Homo sapiens: one gene and its partners. The protein of the gene in region 7 purifies or fractionates together with the protein of the main gene of each other region. This does not show direct contact. Each region holds a gene or a part of one and is shown on either strand. Other genes may lie near its edges. The genes, in order: AVL9, SSU72, ZC3H3, KSR2, DPM1, NDUFA10 and MIDEAS.

Region 1 (3,500 bases), on a different chromosome or scaffold from region 7:
GATTTCACCATGTTAGCCAGGATGGTCTCGATGTCTTGACCTTGTGACCCGCCCACCTTGGCCTCCCAAAGTGCTGGGATTACAGGCGTGAGCCACTGTGCCCGGCCAGATACTTTAGAATGTCTTATTATGTAATATTTGATATACTAAAAAATACATGTAACGTACAGGTTAGTTTTGAAGTATAATAATAAAAAAAATTCCTACGCACCCACCAACCAACTACAGAACTAGAATGTAACCAATAATGTTGAAGCAGCTTTATGGTCCTCCCATCTGTATCCTCCTGTCTTGGAAAATGTACTTTTTCTTCTTCAAATTTGGGATTATAATAAATACATCTTTGAATCCTGGACTTTCATTATATTATAACCATTCACCCAAGAAACATGTTTTCATACTTTCTGTCAGAAACTACAAAAACCTTAGTGTGGGTGAATTTTTTTTCTTCTTTTTTTTTTGAGACAGAATTTCACTCTATCGCCCAAGCTGGAGTGCAGTGGCACGATCTCGGCTCCCTGCAACCTCTACCACCCGGGTTCAAGCGATTCTCCTGCCTCAGCCTCCCAAGTAGCTGGGATTACAGGCACCTGCCACCATGCCCAGCTAATTTTTGTATTTTTAGTAGAGACGGGGTTTCACCATGTTGGGCAGGCTGGTCTTGAACTCCTGACCTCATGATCCACCCGCCTCAGCCTCCCAAAGTGCTGGGATTACAGATTTGAGCCACTGCAGCTGGCTTTTTTTTTTTTTTTTTTTGAGACAGGGTCACTCTGTCACCCAGGCTGGAGTGCAGTGGTGCAATCTTGGCTCACTGCAACCTCCACCTCCAAGGTTCAAGTGATTCTCCTGCCTCACCCTCCCGAGTAGCTGGGACTACAGGCATGCACCACCATGTCTGGCTAATTTTTTTGTATTTTTAGTAGACATGGGGTTTCACCATGTTGGCCAGGCTGGTCTCGAACTCCTGACCTCAGGTGATCTACCCACCTCGGCCTCCCCAAGTGCTGGGATTACAGGCGTGAGCCACTGCGCCGAGCCTCATAAAATTTCTCAAAAATTATTTCAGGCTGGGCGCGGTGGCTTACGCCTGTAATCCCAGCACTTGGGGAGGCCGAGGTGGGTGGATCACCTGAGGTCAGGAGTTCGAGACCAGCCTGGCCAACATGGTGAAACCCCATCTCTACTAAAAATAGAAAAAATTAGCCGAGCGTGGTGGCGGGCACTTGTAATCCAACCTACTCAGGAGGCTGAGGCAGAAGAATTGCTTGAACCCAGGAGGTGGAGGTTGCATGGAGCCGAGATCGCGCCATTGCACTCCAGCCTGGGCAACAAGAACGAAACTGTCTCAAAAAAAAAAAAGAAAAAAGATTATTTCAGTTGTAAAATAACAAATGATTTGAATTTCGTATATATTGATGTCAAATATTTATTCCTAGCTTTCGTCTTGGTATCAAGAGCATTCTAAACAGGCTAGAAGGATTGAAATTACTTAAACAACAAACACATGTTAAAAATCATGAGGTAGTGGTAGGCCCAGTTGCCCAGGTTGGAATCCTGGTTTACCTGTTTACTGGCTGTTTGATATTGTACAAATCACTTCATCTCTCTGTTACTTAGCCTCTGCAGGTATAAAATGTGGATAGGACAGTGCTATTGACTGTGTTTTTATGAGAATTAGACCAGTTAATACACATAAAATACTTAGAATACATGGCATACAGTATGCAGTTATTATCATTACTAATGTTGTTACTATGTATTCATAATTGTAGTTAAGAAAGGAAAACTGGGATGAGCAGGGCCAAATACACACACTCACACATAAACGTACTTCCACAATGGCATCACTGAGGTGTTTCTGTTGTCGAAAAAGGATGTTAGTAGCTCCAGCAACAAACCCCCGAACGGTGACATCGGAGAGAAGATGATGCTGCTGCAATGCCATGTAAGGCAAACACAGATATCCCTATGAATTAGAAGAGTAATAGAAAATATCAGAAAAGTAAAAGGTTACCTTTCTCTTTAAACTTAGTGAGCTAACAGTAGGAAAAGAAACTTCCATTCTTCCTTGCCCTGTCTGTAAGTCAGCTAATCTTTGACTCAATAAAATAATATTCCAGGGGAACTTCAAGTCTTGACTACAGTAAGTCCAGTTAATGATTAGCTAATTGTCTCCATGAATGGTCAAATCTTGGCAAGGTGGTTTAATATGAAGGTTGTCTTTCTTGATCACTTTGTTCTCATTCAATTTAAAAGTCTCCACAGTAACTAATGAATTGAACCTTTTCACTTAGGAAATGAAGCATTAAGCCTGTTAGTAAGTACGTTGTTTAGTAGAAGGCTGTTAAAAATTTAAAATACATGCATCTGCACATAACCACCGAAGCACTATTAGGAGAACAGCAAGGTACTACATAGCATTTGTTATACCGTCCTATGTTAAAAATCATGCAAAAAGATTTCAAGATATTTGTTACTAAATATTTAAAGCAAAAATGACACTGGTAGTATCTGTGTATTTAATTAATTTCCATTTGAATTTTATTTGAAAACAGCATTGCTCCAAAAATTACAGTGGAATTGCTAAACTGCAGCAGGCATCTAAGTATAGAAAAAATCCAGCATACTTCCTGAGAGTACAAGTGTTAACACTGGAATGATTGACTGAAGGAAGATATGCAATTTCTGCTGAAAGATTCTAAATCAGAATGGGTTTTCAACAAGTGGCATGACTTGTATATACAGCCAGGAAGGCAGACTCACTGAGCCCCTCAACTTGTTTTCAGCCTCAAGTTCTATAAGTTTTATTTTTTTACATCTCATCACTTTTTAAAACACAGAATTATGTCATCTGGATAATATCGTGTTTACATCATGAGACAAATCTCTCTGAAGGCAGGGGATATCCGCTTTGCAACTTGATATTCTTTATTCCAACTAGGAGAGCGCTTTGTGTGTAACTAACAGGTGGTTGTTAAATACTTAACATGAAAGGGAAGACTTCCAAAAGTTGGAATATATGTCTGGTAATTTGGTTATATTCTTACTCTTGAAAATGTCTTTTGTTGCTTGATCAGACCCTAACAGAAGCAGCAAAAATAAATCTATACCTTTGCATTAGAGATGCTCAGTATAGAGCTTCTCAACCCAGGCTCCTCATTCAGAATCAGTATTATATTTCATAATAATAACAAAACTAAAAAGTATGTTTTTAAAAAGTAGGTCAAAGCTTTCAAGAAATGTTTAAAAATCCTTTAAAAATTTATAAATATGTATGCCTTTTGGCCCAGCATTCTACTTGTAATTTATCCTACAGTATCCTACAAATATTATATCATATGTGATATTATATTTATGAAAATAAATGCAATACCAAAAAACTCGAATCCAAACTCTTCATGAATAGGGGACTAAATAAATGTTCATCCATACAATGAACCTGCAGCCATAAACAGTGATGATATTCATCTCCAAAGAATATTATGGGCTGGGCATGG
Region 2 (4,115 bases), on a different chromosome or scaffold from region 7:
ACAGCTGGGAAAGGCCATGGAGAATTCTCATGAATCAATAATAAGAAAAACTATCACAAGATTCTGCAAAAACCACAACCTTGCACTAAGGCAATCTTACACAAAAAATACTTCAGCAAGGACAGCTGCCCAGCAACTGCCTGTCCAACCCTGGAACGGGAGTACACTTGTTTTTTTTTTTTTTTAGACGGAGTCTGGCTCTGTCGCCCAGGCTGGAGGGCAGTGGCGCGATCTCGGCTCACTACAAGCTCCGCCTCCCGGGTTCACGCCATTCTCCTGCCTCAGCCTCCCGAGTAGCTGGGACTACAGGCGCCCGCCACCACGCCCGGCTAATTTTTTGTATTTTTAGTAGAGACGGGGTTTCACCGGGTTAGGCAGGACGGTCTGGATCTCCCGACCTCGTGATCCGCCCGCCTCGGCCTCCCAAAGTGCTGGGATTACAGGCGTGAGCCACCGCGCCCGGCCGGGAGTACACTTGTTACTGTTCTTTGTAGCCAAGGTTAATTATTTCCAAACCATTATCTTCCTCTTCATTTTTTCTTTAAAAACCATTACTTTCCTGAATGCGCAAATCGTTTACTATGGCACGCATATTCGCCAACGCCCTATTCCCAAATAAATATCATTTTCAGTTAGCCTGTTATTAGGTTGACAATCATTATCACTCCCTCTCCCGTCCGTGGCGCTCCCACGGCAAAACATCAGCCCACTGTCCACCGCGAGGCTGCATCCAGGCAGACAGGCATAGCTGGGGAATGACACACTCGCGTTGACTGGATTTACTGTAACTGGACCCAAATCTCAGACCAGCCGGCGGCCTCTCCAAGGAAGCCCGAGGCGAGGAAGATCCTAGTCGACGTGCACTCCCAACCAGGTCTGTCACAGGTCGGCCCTCGCATTTAAACGTTAAATGTTGAAGGGCTTTCATAAAAGAGCGATGTGCTCCTGCTTGTATGAGCCGGGGCCGGAGGCCGGTAACAGCGGCACGGGACGGGAGCGAGCCTCAGAATGCGGGAATGTCTGTGGGCCTCCGGGACAGTGGAGGGAGCGGGTCTAGTGAAGCGCGACGACTCTGGGGTGGCAGAAGTGAGGACTATGGGCCCCACGGGGACCGAGGGAACGCACAAAATCGTCCCAAGAGACGAAACGCCGGGCCGCGGAAGGGCCCTCAATGCTATCTCCGGCAAGCGCGGCGTTTCGCATCGCTCCCAAAGGCGGCGGCGACACCTTATGACGTCCTGTTGTTCCGCACGTCGTCGCGTCACACTAGGCGCCGGCGCGGGGTGCTGATGTCAGGACGCCGCCGCTTGGCGCCGTGACGCTCAGCCGGGCCTTGTGGAGTGCGGGTCTCTGCTGCGGACGCCGGGGGCCGGCGCGGCGTTGGCCGCCCCCGGCCTCGCCGAGTGCAGCGCGCCCGAAGGCCAGTGCCTGCGCTCCGTCCGCGGCCCGGCGCCCAGGGTGGGCGGGGAGGCCGCCGCGCAGTCGCCGCACGCTACACCGCCGGCGCCGTCGTTTCGCGTCGCCCGCTTCCGGCCACCGCGGCCGCCATTTTGTTCGCGCGGAAGCGCCGCGGTAGGGTGGGAACCCAAGCGGGAGAGCCGCGGGATTTGCGGCCGCCGCCATGCCGTCGTCCCCGCTGCGGGTGGCGGTGGTGTGCTCGAGCAACCAGAACCGGAGCATGGAGGCGCACAACATCCTCAGGTAGTTGGGCTCCACCCTGTCCCCGCGCGCTCTGCTCCGGCGACCGGCCCTCCCTCCTCCCCGGTTCCCCCTGGCCCGCGCCAGGACCCCTGAGAGGAAGCCGGGCCGGGCCGCGCTCGTGGGTCGGCTGGTTGGGATGGCAGCTGGACGGCAGCGCGCGTAGTCCACACGCGGGTGGGCATCACAGGGAAGGCAGGTTCCGGGACGAGGCGCCCGCTGTCCGGTGGTCCTTCGAGCTCTCCGAGGCCGGGCCCGGGGGGCGAGGGTAGCGTCCGCGGCGAGGGGCTGCGCGGCGGCGGCCGATCATGGTATTTCGTGTGCGTCGTTGGCCACCTTCCCTGGAAACGGCGCGCAACACAATCACGGCATACCACGATGTTGTAAATAACAAAGCGGTCTCTTTTTTTAATGCCATGGATTTGTGTGTTTGCTACTTCTTCTTCTTTTTTTTTTTTTGCGAAAGATCCTCTCTTCCTCCCTGGAACGCCTCCAACCGGTAGTTTCTGGAATACAACGTGGACTTGGTTTGGCTCTGCTAGTTTATATTCCCTGCTAACTGGCCGCCTGTGACTCTTGCGTAGCGTATGTCTAATGAAAGTTTATTCCTGCTTGATAACAAGTTTTTTGTTCAGTCACATAGCAAACTGAGAAACTGACCACTTGACTTACAGTTAAAATTTGGTATGTGTCAACTTTGATAGTAAGAAAGTTGAAATGGCTTTTTTACCTCCAAAGTTACCTACGTGAACTTTAAATGAAAACAGTGTTTCGCTTCTCTTCTCGCAGTCCAGCTATAACTTTCCTGAGCAACTTGGGAAAATTAACAGTCCCCCTTTTTTTTCCGTTTTTAACAGTGTCACGTGGGCCAGGCACGGTGGCTCACGCGTGTAGTCCCCGCACTTTGGGAGGCCGACGCACGCGGATCACCTGAAGTCAGGAGTTGGAGACCAAAAAACACCCCCCAAAAATCAGTGTCAAGTGTTCATGATCTGCTGATTCTTTCTCTTTATTCTTTTCTTTCTTTTTTTTTTTTTTTTTTTTTTTTTTTGAGACAGAGTCTTGCTCTGTCGCCCAAACTGGAGTGCAGTAGCGCGATCTCGGCTCACTGCAACTTGTGCCTCCCGAGATCGAGCTATTCTCCTGCCTCAGCCTCCCGAGTAGCTGGGACTACAGGCACCGGCCACCAGGCACGGCTAATTTTTTTTTTTTTTTGTATTTTTAGTAGAGACGGAGTTTCATCATCTTAGCCAGGATGGTCTTGATCTTATGACCTCGTGATCTGCCCGCTCGGCCTCCCAAAGTGCTGGGATTACAGGCGTGAGCCACTGCGCCCGGCTTTTTTTGTATTTTTAGTAGAGACGGAGCTTCACCATGCTGGCCAGGCTAATCTCAAACTCCTGACCTCAGGTGATCTGCCCGCCTCGGCCTCCCAAAGTGCTGGGATTACAGGCGTCAGCCACCGCATCCGGCCAAAGGTTGTTTTTAAAACTAGAAATGTGCTAGAATTACATTGTGCTGGATCTTCATTTATAAACTGCAGTTACCTGTAAAAATTTGATACATTTAAGCAAAACAATGCAAGGCTCACCCCCCCCCCCCCAAGACAAAATTATTGTTAATTGGAATAACAAATGGGCTGGAGACCTTCTGGTTCTGCTGGTTCTCCTTGGTGATCCTTTGTTCAAGATTTTCTGCTGTACCTGCATAACAAAGATGGAGTAGGCCGGGCGCAGTGGCTCACACCTGTAATCCTAGCACCTTGGGAGGCCGAGATGGGCGGATCACAAAGTCAGGAGATTGAGACTATCCTGGCTAACACGATGAAACCCCGTCTCTACTGAAAATACAAAAAAATTAGCCGGGCGTGGTGGCGGGCGCCTGCAGTCCCAGTTACTCGGGAGGCTGAGGCAGGAGAATGGCATGAACCCAGGAGGCGGAGCTTGCATTGAGCCGAGATCATGCCACTGCACTCCAGCCTGGGCGACAGAGCAAGACTCCATCTCAAATAAATACATAAATAAAATAAAGTTGGAGTAGAATATATATTTTTTTTCTTGAGGGGGAGTCTGTAGCCCAGGCTGGAGTGCAGTGGTGCTATCTCAGCTCACTGCAAGCTCCGCCTCCTGGGTTCACACTATTCTCCTGCCTCAGCCTCCTGAGTAGCTGGGACTACAGGCGCCCGCCACCACGCCCGGCTAATTTTTTTGTATTTTTAGTAGAGACGGGGTTTCACCATGTTAGCCAGGATGGTCTCGATCTCCTGACCTCGTGATCCGCCTGCGTGGGCCTCCCAAAGTGCTGGGATTATAGGCGTGAGCTACTGCGCCTGGCAAGATGGAGTAGAAATCTTAACAAAAGGAAATGTTTTAAAAATTCTATTTAGGGCTGGGCGCGGTGGCTCACGCCTGTAATCC
Region 3 (3,500 bases), on a different chromosome or scaffold from region 7:
ACCAGGCCCACTGGAGATGCTGAGGCCACGCTGCTTGTGGCGGGGAGTCCTGCTGAAGCCCAGGAGGGCAGGTGAGGCAGAGGGGAGGAGCTGGCTGCACTGCCGGGAACTTCCCAGACAGGTGAGCCTGTGAGTGCCTCTGCAACACAGGAGTCAGTCATGCCCCTAGGAAGAGGGGAGCCGCAGCCATCAGCTACAGCCCAGGTCCCCAATTCTCCACCCAGCAGTGGTGCCCCGCAATGAGCTCCAGCGCCAGCTCACTCCACCCTTGCCAGCCACGGCTCAGGCGGCCCCCTTGGCTCTGCCTGGCCCACCCCTCTGCCCCAGGCTGGGTGGGAGTGTCCCGTCCACCCCCTGCCTTCCTGGGGAGGCTGCTGGCCCCACATCCTGCAGCCCTGCGGGCTCCCTGGCCTCCAATATCCCCTTCACTGCACTGCCGCCCCCAGCAACATCCCAGGAGCTGCTCCGGCCCAGTCACCACACCCCTACCATGGGGGGCCAGCTCCTGGGGCTACCAGTGCTGCACCTGGAAGTCTAGGTCCTCTGCGCCTCACCTTCCCATGGTTCAAACCCCGCCCTGTGTTGGTGCTGTGCAACCCCGGGAAAGTTGCTGGACCTCTCTGAGTCACCTGTGAGGTGGACGTGATGGCACTGACCACCTCAGGGCTGCAGATGGGTCATCCAGCCACCACGGCAGGTACCCAGGAGTGAGCAGAGGACCAACAAGCCACAGGAACCCCGCCCACTCGGGCCCCCACAGACCACTCACCTTTGCACCCAGGGGGCAGTAGCCTTTGAGGAAGTCGCTGCAGACCTCGGCCTTGCGGGACACGTACACGTGGCTATAGGGACAGTTGCTGTTGCTGCAGATGCCCTTCAGGAAGTAGGAGCACACCGGCATCTGCAGGGAGGGCCGGCAGTGAGGGCCAGCAGGCAGCCACCCTCCAGGGCCCAGAGACGGTGGCTGGGGACCCTCCTACGGCCCCGCCCGAGAGAGAAATGGACACGCGGCACCAGCAGGCAGGAAGGGCAGCCACCACGACCTGCGGGGCAGGGAAGCTGCTGCTCAGAAGTGGGCCCCAGCCTCCCCAGGTGAGCCACACCCCTGCCGTGCTCTGTCCAGAGGAGGCATGGAGCAGCCCTGTAGCCCTGTGGCTCAGCCTCAGGGGCGCCCTCCTCTGAGTCCCTCACCTGTTCTGAGCCTGCCCACCGTCCAGGGCAAGATGGCAGCCAGGGCTCCCAACCACTAGCCTGTGGCCAGGGCTGCCCTTGGAGCCTCTCAGGCCATGGGGACCAGTGTCTAGGTGGGAGGACGAGCCACGGGCCAGCAGCCAACAGAGGGCTCTCCCTCTCCAGGCACCTGACCCGTGGGCCACAGGCAGTGTCCCTGGGCTCTAGGTGGGCAGGAGCCACCTGGAAGCAGGGCTGGTGTGGCACTGGCTGCAGGCCAGCACCGTGGAGGCCAAGGCTGTCAGCAGGAAGGGTCCAGCAGCGTCTTCCTCCCCAGCACAGGGCCGCTGGCCACAGTCAGTGCTTGTTATCACCACTGGGCTGGGAGAGGGAAAAAATGTAACTTTCCTCCCATTTGGGGGAACCTCAGGCCTAAGGAGCAATGGCTGGGCTAGGGCCACCCAGGGAGGGAAGCAGGGGGTCTCTTGCCATCTCCAGGAGACATCTCCCTGCCCCTCATGGGCCACCACGGGCTCTTCCTGGGCTGCCTGGGTGTCCAGAACAAGGATGTCACCGTCCAGCCTCAGCATGGAGCCCCCACAGAGCCCCTGCCAGCACCCCAGGGTCTCCAGTCTTGCCCCAGGCTATTCCCGCTCCCCTCCCAGGGCCTTCCTCCCTCCTGGGTCAGACCACCCTCCCTGCTCCCACTACCCTTGTCCCCCTCCCCTTCCCAGCCTGCTCAGAGCTGCTGGGGCCTGAGGAGCCCTGGGGGATCTGGGCAGACCCAGAGGCTTTAAAAAGTCACTTTTCTGGGGCAAGGTTGGGGATGGGAAAGGAACTTGTCTAAGGCCAAGGAGGGAAGAAGGGGTCCAGAGAGCCAGCGGCCAGGGCTGAGAGGGAGGGAGGGAGAAGGCAAAGAAACAAAGGGTGATTTAACGAGCGGGAGTTTATTTCTAATTGTCTTTTAACTGCAGCCGCAGAGGGGAGAGGGGCTGGGGGCCGTTTGGGGCTGGCGGTGGTGGGCTGTAGACAATTCCCTTAATGTGGTTTTTGATATAGAGCCCAAATTAGCTCTAATAAAAAGGGATGATAAAGCCAACTCTACAGCAAACGGAGCTCCTCTTGGCTGTCAGAGCGGGGCTGTTATCAAGAGGAAACTGCATTCTCATTTCAATTAACCTTGTTTGCACCCCGCCACGTCCACACAAATAACAATAACATTAATTCAGGGCACTGGTGCGGGGCGTCCACATTAGACAGCTTGGAATGTGCTCTGGCTTTGGAGCTGGGAGCTAATGAACCCGAAACTCGATGTGAATTTCCAAATTGCTCACAACAGAGTTCCGAAGCTCTATTAGGGAGAAAAATGCTGATTCTTTTCAAGTTCCTCAAGGGGAAAAGCTGTTGCGGCAGCAGCACCCCTGCCCAACACCGCCTCCCTCACCCAAGGCAGCCCTCACTCCACTCGCATGCTGTGGTCACACCGTGGCTGAGTCCGGGGCACAGGAGCTACACATGTCCCCCCCAGCCCCAGGGCTCTCTTGCTGCTTCCCAGCAGGGGACCCACCTTGGCTCAAAGCAAGTCTGTTGGGTTTCAGGCCGCGGGGACAACCACATGAGCCAGGAGTCCAGCTGTTCTCCCTCCAGCCCCTCCCTCCCGCCCTCTGCCCAGGCAGCCTCTCCACCCAGCCCCCTCACATACAGCTTCCCCCCTCCTGCCAACCCCAGTCTGAAGAGGCCCTGAGGCCTCAGCCCTGGGTCCACAGGGGCACCTGTGGGACCACCTTCCCCTAGGCATGTGTAAGGGGGGCCTGGGGATCTGGTGAGGCCTGGTGCTGCCAGGAGAAGGGAAAAGAGACCCCTGTGCGTGGTGAGCAGAGACCCTATCAGCGCTGCTTTCCGGGGAAGAGGAAGCCCAGCTGCAAAGCCTGCAATGGGGTAGAGACGGTACAGCAGACTCTAAGGACGCCAGGGCAGGGATCTGCATGTCCCAAACCCAGAGAAAGCTGTGGGCACCATCTGCCCGGAGGCCAGGTGGCTGAGGCCCCGGAGAAAGGTGCACGGGAGCAGGGCCACCAGCGCCGCACTCACCTTCTCCTTGGACACATGGTGGGAGAAGGGGCAGGTCCCATCCGTTTTCTTGCAGGTGCCCCGGACAAACCTGCAGCACCAGGAGAAACGGGTATGAGGAAGGGCCGGCAGGGACCAAGGGCAGGGCCCTGCACAGAACCTCCCCCAGGCCCACAGCGAGGGCAGGAGGGCACCTGGTGCACACGGCCACCTTCTCGGGATCGTGGATGTAGGGGCAGCGCTCGCCACGGTTGCACCTG
Region 4 (3,500 bases), on a different chromosome or scaffold from region 7:
CTTCAATTCTATGAAGGCTGAGAGAGGTGAGGAAGCTGCAGAAGAAAATGTGGACACCAGTAGAGGTTGGCTTATAAGGTTTGTGGAAAGAAGTTGTCTCCATAACATAAAAGTACAGTGAAGCAGGAAGTGCTGATGGAGAAGCTGCAGCAAGTTACCTAGATCTAGCTATGATCACTGATGAAAGTGGTTACACTAAATGACAGATTTTCAATGTAAATGAAACAGTCTTATATTCAACGATGCCATCTAGGACTCTCAGAGCTAGAGAGACGAAGTCAGTGCCTGGCTTCAAAGCTTCAAAGAACAGGCTGACTCTCTTGTTAGGGACTACCGCAGCTGGTGACTTTTAAGCTGAAGCCAATGCTCATTTATCATGCCAAAAATTCTAGGGCTCTTACGAATTACGCTAAATCTACTCTGCCCGTACTTTATAAATGGAACAGCAAAGCCTGGATGATAGCACTTTTGTTCACAGCATGGTTTGCTGAATATTTTAAGCCCACTGTTGAGACCGACTGTTTAGAAAAAACAAGATTCCTTTCAAAATATTATTGCTCATCGACAATGCATGTGCTCAACCAAAACCTCTGATGAAGATGTACAAACAGATTATGTGATTTTCATCCCTGCTAATACATCCATTCTGCAGCCCATGGATTAAGGAGTAATTTTATCTTTCAAGTCTTATTATTTAAGAAATACATTTTATAAGGCTATAGCTGCCATAGATAGTGATTCCTCTGATGGATCTGGGAAAAGTAAAATAAAAACCTGCTGGAGGCCGGGTGCAGTGGCTCACGCCTGTAATCCCAACACTTTGGGAGGCTGAGGTGGGTGGATCACCTGAGGTCAGGAATTTAAGACCAGTTTGGCCAACATGATGAAACTCCATCTCTCCTAAAAATACAAAAATTAGCCAGGCATGATGGTGGGCACCTGTAATCCCAGCTACTCAGGAGGCTGAGGCAGGAGAATTGCTAGAACCCAGGAGGTGGAGGTTGCAGTGAGCCGAGATTGCTCCATTGCACTCTAGCCTGGGTGACAGAGTGAGACTCCATCTCAAAAAAAAAAAAAAAGAATCTTCTGGAAAGGATTCCCCATTTTGGATGCCATTAAGAACATTCGTGATCCATGGAAGGAGGTCAAAATATCAACATTAACAGGAGTTTGGAAGAAGTTGATTCCAACCCTCATGGATGACTTTGAGGCATTCAAGATTTCAATGGAGGAAGTAACTGCAGATGCGGTGGAAACAGCAAGAGAACTAGAATTAAAAGTGGAGCCTGAAGATATAACTGAATTGTTGCAATCTCATGATAAAACTTAAATAGACAAGGAGTTGCTTCTTACGGATGAGCAAGGAAAGTGGTTTCTTGAGATGGAATCCACTCCAGGTAAAGATGCCTTGAACATTGTTGAAATGACAAGAAACATTTTAGAATATTGCATAAACTTAGTTGACAAAGCAGTGGCAGGGTTTGAGAGGATCGACTCTAATTTTGAAAGAAGTTCTACTAGGCTATCAAACGGCATCACATGCTACAGAGAATTTTTTGTGAAAGGAAGAGTCTATCTATGTAGAAAACTGCATTGTTGTATTTTAAGAAATTGTCACAATCAGCCCAACTTTCAGCTACCATCACCTTGATCAGTCGGCAGCCATCAACATTGAAGCAAGACCTTCCACCAGCAAAGAGTATGGCTCACTGAAGGCTCAGATGATCATTAGTGTTTTTTAGTATTAAAGTATTTCTAAATTAATGTATGTACATTGTTTTTTAAGACATAATGCCATCATACACTTAATAGACTACAGTATGGTATAAAACATAACTATTCTATGTACTGGGAAACCCAAAATTCGTGTCATTCACTTTGGGATCTTTATCGTGGTGGTCTGGAACCAAACTCACAATATCTCTGAAGTATGCCTGTACTTACTGAAAACAAGTTTTACAAAACAACACTAAAACGCTTACCAGATGCAATGTGTTCCAATATACTCTAGTCTAGGCTAGTCTATTTCATTTTTTTAATGCTGGTCACAAGCCATTAAAATAATGCTATCAACCACAAATGGGTCATGACCACAAATTTAAAAACACAAATGTATTCTAACCTCTTGGGTCCACAGCTGAGAAAGCTAAGATTCAGAGAGGTTAAATCCAAGGTCAAAAGGCTACTTCCTGGCAGGATCAGGACTAGTTTAGACCCAGGTAAATGATGACTGTTGTTATCAGTCTAATAATTGGGACTCACCTCAACTAACGCCTCCTTTATAAATCCTGATCAGAATTCACCTCTACCCATGACCCCCGCTGCCAACATTATTCAGGTTGCTGTTATTTATGTTTTAGTTTTTTTAACACCCCCAGGCCTGCTGCCCTGATATCCCTGTGAACCTGGAGGCATGGTCCCAGGCTAAGTGGTCCCACGGCATTTTCCACATCACCAAACTGACCACTCTGTTCCTCTCCTCTACTGCTTCCTTGCCATGAACCACAGCATCCCCCAAGGTGGGCCAGGGAACTACCAGCCTTGAGGAAGTGATGAGCTTGCTAACTCAGCCAGAAGAAACCTGAAGGGCAAAGCTTAACGCCACCTGAGTCCTGATACACAAATTCCAAAAAACACTAAAGGTGGCCAAGTCAATTTGGAAGGCCTTGAAGAAGTGGGCCATTCAACCCTATCCAGGCAGAATAAATCCTTCAGGGGTCTAGGGAAAGGACAGCATTTAAAAACCAAAGGGCAGCCTCTCTCACTTGGCCTCCATCTTGCAGATTAGAAGATGATGTGTCTGGAGAGTCGGCTTTCTGATCAAGTTTCGCCTTACTAAGTGGTGCACCCTGGGAAAGGGACAGGGAGAAGCACAAAGTGTGGGGCCACCGTAGCAACCAAACCCCAAATGCCTCTTCCACCCTCCACCTTAGCAACCTGCACTCCCAGCCTTCCTGGAACTTTACCCCACATCTTCACCTTGAGGTTTCAGCAGGCCCCAATCTCTGTGGCTCTCACAAAACCATGCAAATCAAACACAACTCCAATCAGAAAAGCATCTATCCTCTGCTTCACCCTCAGAGGTCTCAAACATGCATTCTACGTCTTCAAGCTAGGTTTCACATAGCAGCTTAAATATGACTGTTGTAAAATCACATGTTCCACGTCAATCACTGTAGGGCATTCCCAATGCTTCAGAAAAGAGATCACTCTCTACACTACGGCTTCAGACAGGGCTTGGTAAATCACAGTTCATGGGCCAAATTGGGCCAGGTACCTGTTTTTATAAATAAAGTTTTATTGGAACACTGCCATGCCCATTTGTTTACCTATTGTCTGTGCTGGTTTTGTGCTACATGATAGAGTTGAGTAACTGCAACAGAGACTGAATGGTCTGCAAAGCCTAAAGTATTTACTATCTGCCCCTGTACAGAAAAAGTGTGCCAACCCTTCACTTACAGAATCCTGCCTTTTTAAAATGGTGATAAAATATACATAAT
Region 5 (3,500 bases), on a different chromosome or scaffold from region 7:
TTGCTTTATTCCCCTTAAGAATCATTTTCTAAGATATTTCTTTTCACTGCCACCTCCTTCCTCCCCATCCACATGGTAACTTTAACACTGTGGCTAGTAAAATAAAATGTTACATGAAGCCATATAATCCCATAAATGCGATTAGGATCCAGGTGGTCTATGCTATTAAATGGCTTTATATTGACTGTAGCCTTTCCAGGATTCCTTTTCTTATTTTGTAAAAAGCACCTTCTTCCTAAATCTAGGGATTTAATGACAAAAATGGGCTTTGTCTAGCGACAAATGAACTTTAATGCATGTATTTAAGAAACCACCACTCTTATGAGAAGACAATGAGATTTAACTATTAAAAAAAATTTTTTTTTTTTTTTGAGACAGAGTCTCACTCTGTCGCCCAGGCTAGAGTGCAGTGCAATCTCGGCTCACTGCAAGCTCTGCCTCCCAGGTTCACGCCATTCTCCTGCCTCACCCTCCCGAGTAGCTGGGACTACAGGCGCCCGCCACCACGCCCGGCTAATTTTTTGTATTTTTAGTAGACGGGGTATCACCATGTTAGCCAGGATGGTCTCGATCTCCTGACCTTGTGATCCACCTGCCTCGGCCTCCCCAAGTACTGGGATTACAGGCGTGAGCCACCGCGCCCAGCCTATTTAAAAAATTTTTTGGGCTGGGTGCAGTGGCTCATGCCTGTAATCCCAGCACTTGGGGAGGCGGAGGCAGGAGGATCACCTGAGGTCGGGAGTTCAAGACCAGCCTGACCAACGTGGAGAAACCCCATCTCTACTAAAAATACAAAATTAGCCAGGCATGGTGGCGCACGCCTGTAATCCCAGCTACTCGGGAGGCTGAGGCAGGAGAATCTCTTGAACCTGGGAGGCGGAGGTTGTGGTGAGCCAAGATCGCGCCATTGCACACTCCAGCCTGGGCAACAAGAGCGAAACCCTGTCTCAGAAAAAAGAAAAAAAAATTGTGCAATTAACAGGTTCACTTTTGTCTGTTTGGCTGCTCTGTCATTTATACAGAACACAGCTAATCATTGCTGTCAATACATGAAAATCCAGAACTCCCAGGCCATCCTTCAACCCCCATCCCCTCCACTAATCCTTGTATGGTTCTGATGCAGCAAACCACCCTCACCCCATTCCTCTCCCTGCTGTGTTTTTCTTCACAGCCTCTATCTTCACAACTAGTTACCAGTTACCCTAGGTTTTTATTCAAAACCATCAAAACTGTGGCCTGTGAAATCCACACTGGCCCTTCCCGCTGTACAGAGATTTTGTGAGTGCCACTATTCTTTGCATTGTTGCCACATGGCAATCAGAGATCTTTTTTGTTTTTTTTTGTTTTTTTTTAGACGGAGTCCCACTCTACTGCCCAGGCTGGAGTGCAGTGGCGCGATCTCAGCTCACTGCAACCTCCACCTCCCAAGTAGCTTAGACTACAGGCCCACCACCACACTTGGCTAATTTTTTGTATTTTTTAGTAGAGACAGGGTTTCACTGTTAGCCAGGATGGTCTCGATCTCCTGACCTTGTGATTCACCTGCCTAGGCCTCCCAAAGTGCTGGGATTACAGGTGTGAGCCACAATGCCTGGCTTTTTTTTGACAGTCTTCCTCTGTCGCCAGGCTGGAGTGCAGTGGCGCAATCTCGGCTCACTGCAACCTCTGCCTCTGGGTCTCAAGTGATTCTCCTGCCTCAGCCTCCTGAGTAGCTGGGATTACAAGCGTACGCCACCATACCTGGCTAATTTTTGTATTTTTAGTAGACAGGATTTCGCCACGTTGCCCAGGCTGGTCTTAAAACTCCTGACTTCAAGTGATCCACATGCCTCGGCCTCCCAAAGTGCTGGGATTATAGGCGCAAGCCACTGCCCATCCACCAGCCAACGCCCATCCGCAATCAGAGATCTTAATCATATCACAAATGACTCTTTAGCCTTAGGGTATAGCCTCCCCTCTCTTTCATCCCCAAGTTCAGCTCTCCAGTCTATTTGCATTTTAGTTCTAGAGAGGCTTCATTTTTCTTTTTGACTGTCAACAGCCAGGTCCTAATTTGTGTGTGTGTGTGTGTGTGTGTGTGTGTGTGTGTGTGTCAATTCTCACATTTAAGGACCTAGATTTTCCTGCATTAAGCAAAGGACCCAAGAATCAACATTATTTAGTGGAAAAAAGTATCAACTAGTAGAAATTATTAAGTAATGTTTGGGGGGCTTGGGGGTCACTAAAGTAGATGCAGGGGCATTTTATAGTTTCAGAGATTAAAAAAAAAAATCTGGCAAGTTTTGTCATTTGCCATGGTCAGTCACACAAAGCAGCTCACATCTACTACAGCAAATCTAGACCACCACCCCATACACCCAGAAACAGACACGCAAAACTCAGAGGGACCGAAGCTTTGTCCAAATTGAACAACAAAAATTTCCTCAAACATATGGAGAACAAGGTAACTGAGAGAGCTCTATATAAATATTAAAGAGTTTAACCTTTTCTGTAGACAATGCTGTAGGTATTCATATGAAATGCAGAAAATTAAGTACATGCTATTCTTTGGAACAGATTATCAGTAATAGCAACATTCCAAAGAGCAGTTGAGCCTTAATACTAATGTTAACAAGCACACAAACCTAACTGCCTTCAGCTTTTTAAAGGAAAAGCACAATATGTCTCCTTGAGATGTTTAGGCTTCATTAGCAACTTCTAGGAATTTTAGTCTGCCTTTTTAGTATCCCAGAATAAAAACAAGGTAGAAATGTAAAGTGTCTCTTTAAAATATCCATTGTAAAGAAAGTTAGCCAAGAAGTTATATAAAAGTAGTGGAAATTTTCACTGTACCTGAAACTTCCTGTTAAATCAGATGCTCCTGGTCTCAGCAAGATCTGAGTTAAAAAATTGGCCCCACGGCTGCCAAATAAAACAATCAGATCTTCTTTACAAAATACAATTTATAAACAAGAGAAACACATCGAAGAACAGTGTTAAAATGCTATACTAATTTCATAAATGTAACATTAATTTCATAAAAATGTTATTTATCTAGAACAAAATAGAAATTTTTAGTCAATGAAAGGAGACCTGGCTAGGCGCGGTGGCTCACACCTGTAATCCCAGGAGGCCAAGATGGCTGGATCACTTGAGCCCAGGAGTGACCAGCCTGGGCAACATGGCAAAACTCCATCACTACAAAAAAAAAAGTGAATATATATATATATATATATATATATATATATATATAAATAAAATACATTCATATAATATATATACACATTCATATAATATGTATATTCATATTATATATTCATATATATTCGTATTATATATATTCATATACATATATATTCATATTATATATATTCATATATATATTCATATTATATATATATATTCATATTATATATATTAGCTGGGCATGGTGGTACGTGCCTGCAGTCCCAGCTACTGGGAAGCTGAGGCAGGCAGATCACCTGAGCTCAGGAGTTCGAGGGCAACCTGGGCCACATGGT
Region 6 (3,500 bases), on a different chromosome or scaffold from region 7:
AGTATAATAATATACCATAAACAGTATCATAACATAGTCCCTAAAACTTTAGTACTTATGATATATACACATGGTTCTGAGCCTTTCAAATTATTCCCACATTTAATCCCCACAACAGTCCTATGAGGTAGCTTCTATTTTCTTCCTGCTTTACAACAAGGAGACAGAGGCTCAGAGAGGTTAGGCCCCTTGCCCAGGGGCACAGTGACAGGTGAGTGGCTGAGTCCCTCTCAAGGGATCCTTCTGACCTGGTTATGAAATGGTGAGTCTCTGGTATTACAACAATCATTTTCTTCTCAGAAATATACTTTTATTTTCTCCTCTTGGTCTCCATCACCTACGCATCCCTGTCCTAAAGTTAAAATTACTCGGAATAAACCAATGTTTGATGGCCCTTGCCACAGTTCACAGCAAAGCACACACTGACTTTGCAACAAAAATGGCTGCACAGGGAATAATCAGCTGACTTCAATGACTCAGAGAAACTTCTACATTCAGACACCTCAGAGGACCCCTCTAATTTCTGGTCGGTCGCCCTGTCAATCAGCAAACTCACGGCCCTCAGGTTGAAATGTGTTGTCCACCTGGAGTAGGCACTGTAACCCTTGGCCATTGTCTCCAGGATGCAGAATATTTATTCAGAGGCCAAAAGCAGTGCTTTGTGCTTTACTTCCATCTCCTAGTAATGGCTCAGAAAGACAAGGAAGGCCGGCGCAGTGGCTCCCGCCTGTAATCCCAGCACTTCTGGAGGCCGAGGCAGGTGGATCACCTGAGGTCAGGAGTTCAAGACCAGTCTGCCCAACATGGCGAAACCCTGTCTCTACTAAAAATACAAAAAATTAGCCGGGTATAGTGGTGCATGCCTATAATCCCATCTACTCAGGAGGCTGAGGCAGGAGAATCGCCTGAACCAGGAGGCAGAGGTTGCAGTGAGCTGAGATTGCGCCACTGCACTCCAGTCTGGGCAACAAGAGCAAAACTCTGACTCAAAAAAAAAAAAAAAAAAAAAAAAAAGACAAGGAAAGCGGGTTTTGTTGTTTGTTTTACTTTCTAATGGAAGATTTGCTAGATTCCTTTCAAAAGACTTTCTAGAGAGCCAATCATTTCAGTAAGCTACTTTTAGATTAACACCATTTTATACAGTAGTCAGTATATGGAATATAATATATGAAATTTATATTTGTTTTTTCCTTCAATACACATGGCCTAGCACTCTACCTCACTGCCATAATCTTACATATGGAGGCACAGGCAGATAAAGTGACTTGTCCCAAGTCACACAGCCAGCTAAGGGCTGACCTGACCCTTCCCGTCTCCTCAGTCTGACATGAGGACCCCACAGTGTGCCTACCTTGCTCACCCTTCAGTATCCATTCCACTAACTAGAAAACTGATTTTGCAAATACTATTTTAACAGGGGGGCAGGAATTAACAAACTAAGTAGAATGACTAGTTTTTTTTAATGTAAACCTATTTTTTGCTTATTAATGCTGTACTAAAAACATCAAACAGAAGTGAACTTCTTTTGAGAGACAGAGTCTCTGTCGCCCAAGCTGGAGTACCGTGGCGTGAACACAGCTCATTGCAGCCTCAACCTCCCAGGTTCAAGTGACCCTCCCACCTTAACCTCCCAAGTAGCTGAAACTATAGGCATGCACCACCATACCCAGATAATTTTTAAATTTTTTGTAGAGATGGGGTCTCACTATATTGCCCAGGCTGGTCTCGAACTCCGGGGCTCCAGCAATCCTCCCACTTGAGCTTCCCAACGTGCTGGGTTTACAGACGTGAACGCTGCCTGGCCAGAAGTAAACTTATTACACATTCTGTTTACATTTTGATCAGTGAACTTTTAGTGACATGTGCAGTGAGCCAGCTGTCCCTCTGGTCATCCTAGGAGACTACTGTATCACTCACATCCCATCAGGCAGAGAAAGAAGGTAAGCACCAACGGCCTAAGAACACCAACATCACAGGGCCAAGAACAGAGCTGCCATCTGTAGGCACCAACTTCCTAATTTACATCCAAACGTTGAGGAGAGGGAAGTTGAGTGCCCCGGCCATCCTTGTGCCTCCAGGCCCTCGAGAGGCAAAGTGTTGGTGCAGTCTGCACAGAGCATCCTGGGTAGAGGCAGGAAGCAGCACAGGGCAGGCTCAGGCCAAGGGCTCGAGACTTAACACAAAAGGCAGATCCCCAAATAGCTACTCATGTTTCCTGCATTTTCACAAGTCAAAGACCCTCAAATTACTCCAATCTTGATTTATAAATAATCAGAATTATGATACAACAGCACTTCTCATTACAAAATCATCTCTGAATTTTGTAGAATTTATAGCCCTAAAAGAAATCAAAGTCACTCACTCCAGATACATCTCCTGAGTGCACGCTGGATATGAGGCCTGTACCAGGAACTGGGCGTTGCAGTGATGAGAAGCAGCAGGGGGTGGGTGGTGGAGGACAGACCCAAGCAGGATGAGATTCCCGGGTGGCCAGCACCAGCCAGGACAGAAGAGGCAGAGCTGGGGATCACCGGTGGGAAGGTCAATGCACAGAGACACTGCAAGAGGCAGCCGAGGGATATTTGCTGGGTGTGCAGGGTAAAGGTCTGGGCCAAGACCTACGGTGGTATCCACGCTATCCACAGCTGTGTGACTAGGTACGTCCTCAAGAAACTGAATTCAACGGACGAGACACTGCCCGGGGTCACTGTGCCTGCCAGAGCCCAGCAGCAGGCAGAAGGAACCAGAAAAAGAGAGCCCGGCCCCAGAAGGCAGCAGCTGGTGGAGGAGTGAGAGAGTGGGGGAGGAGGAGGGCATGGAACCAGGAGAAGGGAGTGGAGAAGAGGGGCAGCGGTGCTGCTTCCAGGGCCAGGGAGCAGCATGAAGACAGACAAGGGTCTGCCGCATCTGGAATGGCGAGGCCGTCTCCTTGGCAGGAGCAGTTTCAATAGAGTGGTGCAGATGAAGACAGCTTTTTTCAACCTTACCTAATCGGTATGGTTTTTGTTTTTCATTTAATAGATACCAAAGAATCCACACAATAGCTGAATGGATATAAGTCATATCGTATTACTCCTCTGCTTCAAACCCCCAAACGGCATCTCATCTCATCAGAAGAAAACCCACCAAACGCACCAAGACCTATCCGCCTTCTGCTGTGGCCTCCCCTCCTAGTCCTACCCCCTTCTGCAGTGGCCTCCCTTCCTAGTCCTGCCCTCTTCCACCGCGGCCTCCCCTCCTAGTCCTGCCCCATTCCGCCATGGCCTCCTCTCCTAGTCCTGCTCCATTCCGCTGTGGCCTCCCCTCCCCACACTTTTTCTGGCCACACTGGCTTGGCTGCTGGGCGCACCTTCCCACCACACTCCTGCCTGAAGAGCCTCTGCACCTGCCAAGCCCCTGCCCTCTGCTCACCCCACGGCCCACAGGACCCAATCCTGGCCTCACTTAGGCCTCATCCCGAGAGAGGCCCTTTGTCACCCCTAGCTACTCACCACCCTGTT
Region 7 (3,500 bases):
GGGCCGAGGCCCAGGACTGGGCCAGCCTGGCTCCCGCGCTCAGCCCTTGTCGCCCGCACCGCTCTCCTCCCGCAGGGCCTGCTGGTGGGCGGCGGCGGCGGCAGCAGCGGCCTCTTTCTCCTTCAGCCTCAGCGCTGCAGCCTTCTTCTCCTGCTCTGCGTGGCTCTTCATATGCGCACTGCGGCTCTTCACCTTGTAAAACACCCTGCAGCCGGGTGGGGGTTGCTCAGAACCGGCCTAGCCCACCCGGGGGCCCCCAGCGCGGGTGCGCGAGGAGCCCCAGCCTTCACCTTCACCCCCACGCTGCACAGCCGCGGCCGGCCAGCTCGCGTCATTTTCCGAAAGCTGCCCCATGACGTCACAGCCCTAGAAACCCGCTGAGCCAACCAGAAACGAGGCGGACACCGCCTGTACCTCTTCCCCCTCCCCTCCACCCCACCCCCGCCCCCTCCGCGCACCAGCCCGCGGGGGTCCCAGCGGGGACAGCGCTGCCCACCTTACCTGCCACATTTTTTACAGGGGAAAGTGTTCTCCTGATTCTGGGTCTTACTGAATGTCTCTGTTTTTTTCTTCTTCTCTGAAAAAGGTAGTGCCCTTCGTGACTTCCCTGTCCCTTCCCTTGGCTTCTCCGAGGCCTGGCCACCGGCAGACCCAGGGGCGTTGGACTCGTGGCTCCGGAGGATGAGGATGTCACTGGCCTGAAGAAAATCAAACAAGGAGAGTTGAGTGATCTGAGCAAGCGCAGATCTGGAATTCTAAAATCGCAGGGAACCGGGGGCCTGAAAAGTCATATATATTCCTGCCAAACAGTCACCTAGCATGCACTTGGGTCCTTCCAGGGATATGACGACCATTGCCTCCTCCAACTCTGCATCTCTGGTCAGCTCTATCGTTTACAAAGTTGCTGCTAGAGTAATTCTGTGGGGCAGCCCGAGCTGCTAGAGGCCTTGATGCGCCTGACAGGGGATCTTGGTCTCTGGGTTAATGAAGCACCTACCTGTTGATGTTTTCTGTCATTTAGTCCGCTCATGCCCTGTTCTATAAATGAGATTCAGGCCCCTGTGATGGGCCAGATGCTAGGGACAAAGAGGTTGACACAGGCATCCCTGCCCTCAGAGCTGAGGATCTGGTGGAAGGGACAGATGCGCAGGTAGCTACTTCAGGACAGCGCACTGCAGGGACACCAAACAGGGCAAGGGCAGGGGTCAGAGTGCAGAGCAGAGGGAGCAGAGGTGACCTCGGCTGGGGAAGCCCCGGGTGGCCATCAGAAGTGGCACCCTCATGGGAAAGTTCACAAAAGTCAACAGAACTCTGTAGAGCGCTACACAGAGCACAGCTCTTGGTGCAGGTGGTCGAGGCTCAGAAGTGGGCACACAGCCGTGTGTTTACAGTTTATGGGAGCTCTGTAAGCATGAGTGTACTACACACATTCCTTTTTTTTTTTTTTTTTTTTGAGATGGAGTCTTGCTATGTCACCCAGGCTGGAGTGCAGTGGCATGATCTTGGCTCACTGCAACCTCCGCCTCCTCCACCTCCTGGGTTCAAGTGATTCTCCTGCCTCAGCCTCTGGAGTAGCTGGGATTACAGGCGTGCACCACCATGCCCAGCTAGTTTTTGTATTTTTAATAGAGATGAGGTTTCACCTTGTTGGCCAGGCTGGTCTCGACTCCTGACCTCAGGTGATCCACTCACCTTGGCCTCCCAAAGTGCTGGGATTACAGGTGTGAGCCACTGCGCCCGGCCTACTACATACATTTCTAAAAAAAAAGACTCTAAAAAAGCAGCAGCTCCCCAATAAACCCCTTCCCCTCCTTACCCCTTTCTGGGAGAACTCTCCCTGGCAAGGAGCAACTATGGCCAGTAGTCTTGTTTCTTGGCCTGTGATATGGTGGACAGAGCACTGCACTAGGAGTCCAAGGACCTGGGGCAAGTCACTTAGCATCTCTGAACTGCTTTCCCCCATCTGCAGAGTAGAGGTTAACTCTGCAGTGTGAGGAACTAATGAGATAATGGAAATGAAAGCACTTTGCAGAGATCATGCCTGAGGGCCTATGATTGTCATTCCCATGGTCTCAGCTCAGTCTCATTCTTGTCAGGGACTCTGGCTCTCTTAGGGGAGCCCTGTCTGCAAACCACCAATGCTCCCTCAGTGACCCACATACCTACTGGGTTTTCACAAAACCTTTTTCCCTCTGAATCTCAGATACAGAAGCAGTAGAGTATAAAAATTAATCGCAGACTCTGGATTCAGGCTGCCTACTAGCTGTGTTATCTTGGGCCACAATTTCCCCATCTATAAAATGGGAATAACAGTAATACCTAACCACATAGGGTAGTGAGGATTAAATGAGTTAACAGCACAAAGTACTTCACACATTTCCTGCTATTATGATTATAATGAGGATCACAGTCCTGCTCTACCCTCCCTCCCACGCCCCCAGGCCCAGCTCCACCCTGCTTGCCCTGGGCTCAGCCCATGGTGGTCACACTCACCGACTCATTGGCCTGTAGTGTCTGCGTGGCTTTGACTGCCGCTGCCCGCCTGCTGCGCTCTCGCCCCTCTTCCTGCTCCTCCTTCTCTTGGATCTCTGGCACCTCCTCCTCCCCCTCCTTCCTGGGCTCCTTCACCTCCCTCTTGGGCTCCAGCCTCTCTTCACTTGGGGACTCTCTTCTGGGAAGAGGCACCCTTGGGAACTTTTGGGAAGTCTATGGGGAACAAGAACAAGGGCAGTGAGCCTAGAGCTCTGTCTCACTGCTGTAGCACAGATTCTGACCCGGCCGGGGGGTTCACCAGCCCCAGCTAGTCCTGCTCGCCTGGCTGGCCCAGCATAGTCTTCTGTACTAGGACTCTGGACTCTGTCCCCATGGCATAGTAGCCATGGGGACAGAAGAGTCTCAAGCCCTGGGAGCACCTGAGAGAGAACGAGGGGCAAGGAGGGTACATACCAGTCACTCCCCATTGCCACCCATCCTCCTGGACAGATGACCAGGAGGCATCCTCGGCAATGATGTGGTGAGCCAGGCAGAAGCCTTGAGTTCCAATTCCAAACTATCTTTGTAATGCTTTCTGTAGCTCTACTACCTTCCTGCCTGCAAAATGGGCAGCAAACCACTCCCTGTCTTACCGTAGCATGTCACCAAGCGTGGATTTGCAATCCCAAAAATGATGCTAGGTGGATACATGGACATAGGATTAAGTAACCTTCCCTTTTAATTCTCTTTCAATCCTGATTATGCCAAGGACTCAGTCTCTGGTTGCTGCTAATGTGTCTTTTATACTTCTCTAGACTTGATAATCTCTTTAACAAAGCAAGGTCAGCCCTCAGTCTCAGCCTTGGCAGGTAACACAGCATCTAGCTAGAATTCAGTAATACTGGTTTTCACATATATTTTTACCAGTACCTTCTATTTATAGCACACAACCTTGGTTTTCTATTTATCACTGTGATATAAAACTTCCCTTCTGAGTAAAAAATGAGTTGACTTAAAGGAAAATATTA

What was found.
Region 1: the proteins of MIDEAS (region 7) and AVL9 purify together in Homo sapiens (affinity purification with mass spectrometry; one large-scale study listed by BioGRID and IntAct). This does not show direct contact.
Region 2: the proteins of MIDEAS (region 7) and SSU72 fractionate together in Homo sapiens (co-fractionation; one large-scale study listed by BioGRID). This does not show direct contact.
Region 3: the proteins of MIDEAS (region 7) and ZC3H3 purify together in Homo sapiens (affinity purification with mass spectrometry; one large-scale study listed by BioGRID and IntAct). This does not show direct contact.
Region 4: the proteins of MIDEAS (region 7) and KSR2 purify together in Homo sapiens (co-immunoprecipitation; one large-scale study listed by IntAct). This does not show direct contact.
Region 5: the proteins of MIDEAS (region 7) and DPM1 purify together in Homo sapiens (affinity purification with mass spectrometry; one large-scale study listed by BioGRID and IntAct). This does not show direct contact.
Region 6: the proteins of MIDEAS (region 7) and NDUFA10 purify together in Homo sapiens (affinity purification with mass spectrometry; one large-scale study listed by BioGRID and IntAct). This does not show direct contact.

Annotation. Positions count from the first base shown.
Region 1 is NC_000007.14:32,568,489-32,571,988, reverse strand, and holds part of AVL9 (late secretory pathway protein AVL9 homolog), read right to left. Parts: intron 1,970-3,500; coding exon 1,835-1,969; coding exon of another isoform or gene 1,823-1,834; intron 1-1,822. UniProt on the Homo sapiens protein: Functions in cell migration.
Region 2 is NC_000001.11:1,572,064-1,576,178, reverse strand, and holds the start of SSU72 (RNA polymerase II subunit A C-terminal domain phosphatase SSU72), read left to right. Parts: upstream 1-1,315; 5' UTR 1,316-1,621; coding exon 1,622-1,701; intron 1,702-4,115. UniProt on the Homo sapiens protein: Protein phosphatase that catalyzes the dephosphorylation of the C-terminal domain of RNA polymerase II. Plays a role in RNA processing and termination. Plays a role in pre-mRNA polyadenylation via its interaction with SYMPK.
Region 3 is NC_000008.11:143,464,948-143,468,447, forward strand, and holds part of ZC3H3 (zinc finger CCCH domain-containing protein 3), read right to left. Parts: coding exon 3,435-3,500; intron 3,332-3,434; coding exon 3,262-3,331; intron 902-3,261; coding exon 770-901; intron 1-769. UniProt on the Homo sapiens protein: Required for the export of polyadenylated mRNAs from the nucleus. Enhances ACVR1B-induced SMAD-dependent transcription. Binds to single-stranded DNA but not to double-stranded DNA in vitro. Involved in RNA cleavage.
Region 4 is NC_000012.12:117,755,991-117,759,490, forward strand, and holds part of KSR2 (kinase suppressor of Ras 2), read right to left. Parts: intron 1-3,500. UniProt on the Homo sapiens protein: Location-regulated scaffold connecting MEK to RAF. Has very low protein kinase activity and can phosphorylate MAP2K1 at several Ser and Thr residues with very low efficiency (in vitro).
Region 5 is NC_000020.11:50,938,033-50,941,532, forward strand, and holds part of DPM1 (dolichol-phosphate mannosyltransferase subunit 1), read right to left. Parts: intron 3,178-3,500; coding exon of another isoform or gene 3,073-3,177; intron 2,927-3,072; coding exon of another isoform or gene 2,902-2,926; coding exon 2,833-2,901; intron 1-2,832. UniProt on the Homo sapiens protein: Transfers mannose from GDP-mannose to dolichol monophosphate to form dolichol phosphate mannose (Dol-P-Man) which is the mannosyl donor in pathways leading to N-glycosylation, glycosyl phosphatidylinositol membrane anchoring, and O-mannosylation of proteins; catalytic subunit of the dolichol-phosphate mannose (DPM) synthase complex.
Region 6 is NC_000002.12:240,001,343-240,004,842, forward strand, and holds part of NDUFA10 (NADH dehydrogenase [ubiquinone] 1 alpha subcomplex subunit 10, mitochondrial isoform 1 precursor), read right to left. Parts: intron 1-3,500. UniProt on the Homo sapiens protein: Accessory subunit of the mitochondrial membrane respiratory chain NADH dehydrogenase (Complex I), that is believed not to be involved in catalysis. Complex I functions in the transfer of electrons from NADH to the respiratory chain.
Region 7 is NC_000014.9:73,718,804-73,722,303, forward strand, and holds part of MIDEAS (mitotic deacetylase-associated SANT domain protein), read right to left. Parts: intron 2,707-3,500; coding exon 2,494-2,706; intron 699-2,493; coding exon 502-698; coding exon of another isoform or gene 498-501; exon of another isoform or gene 206-497; coding exon 40-205; 3' UTR 1-39.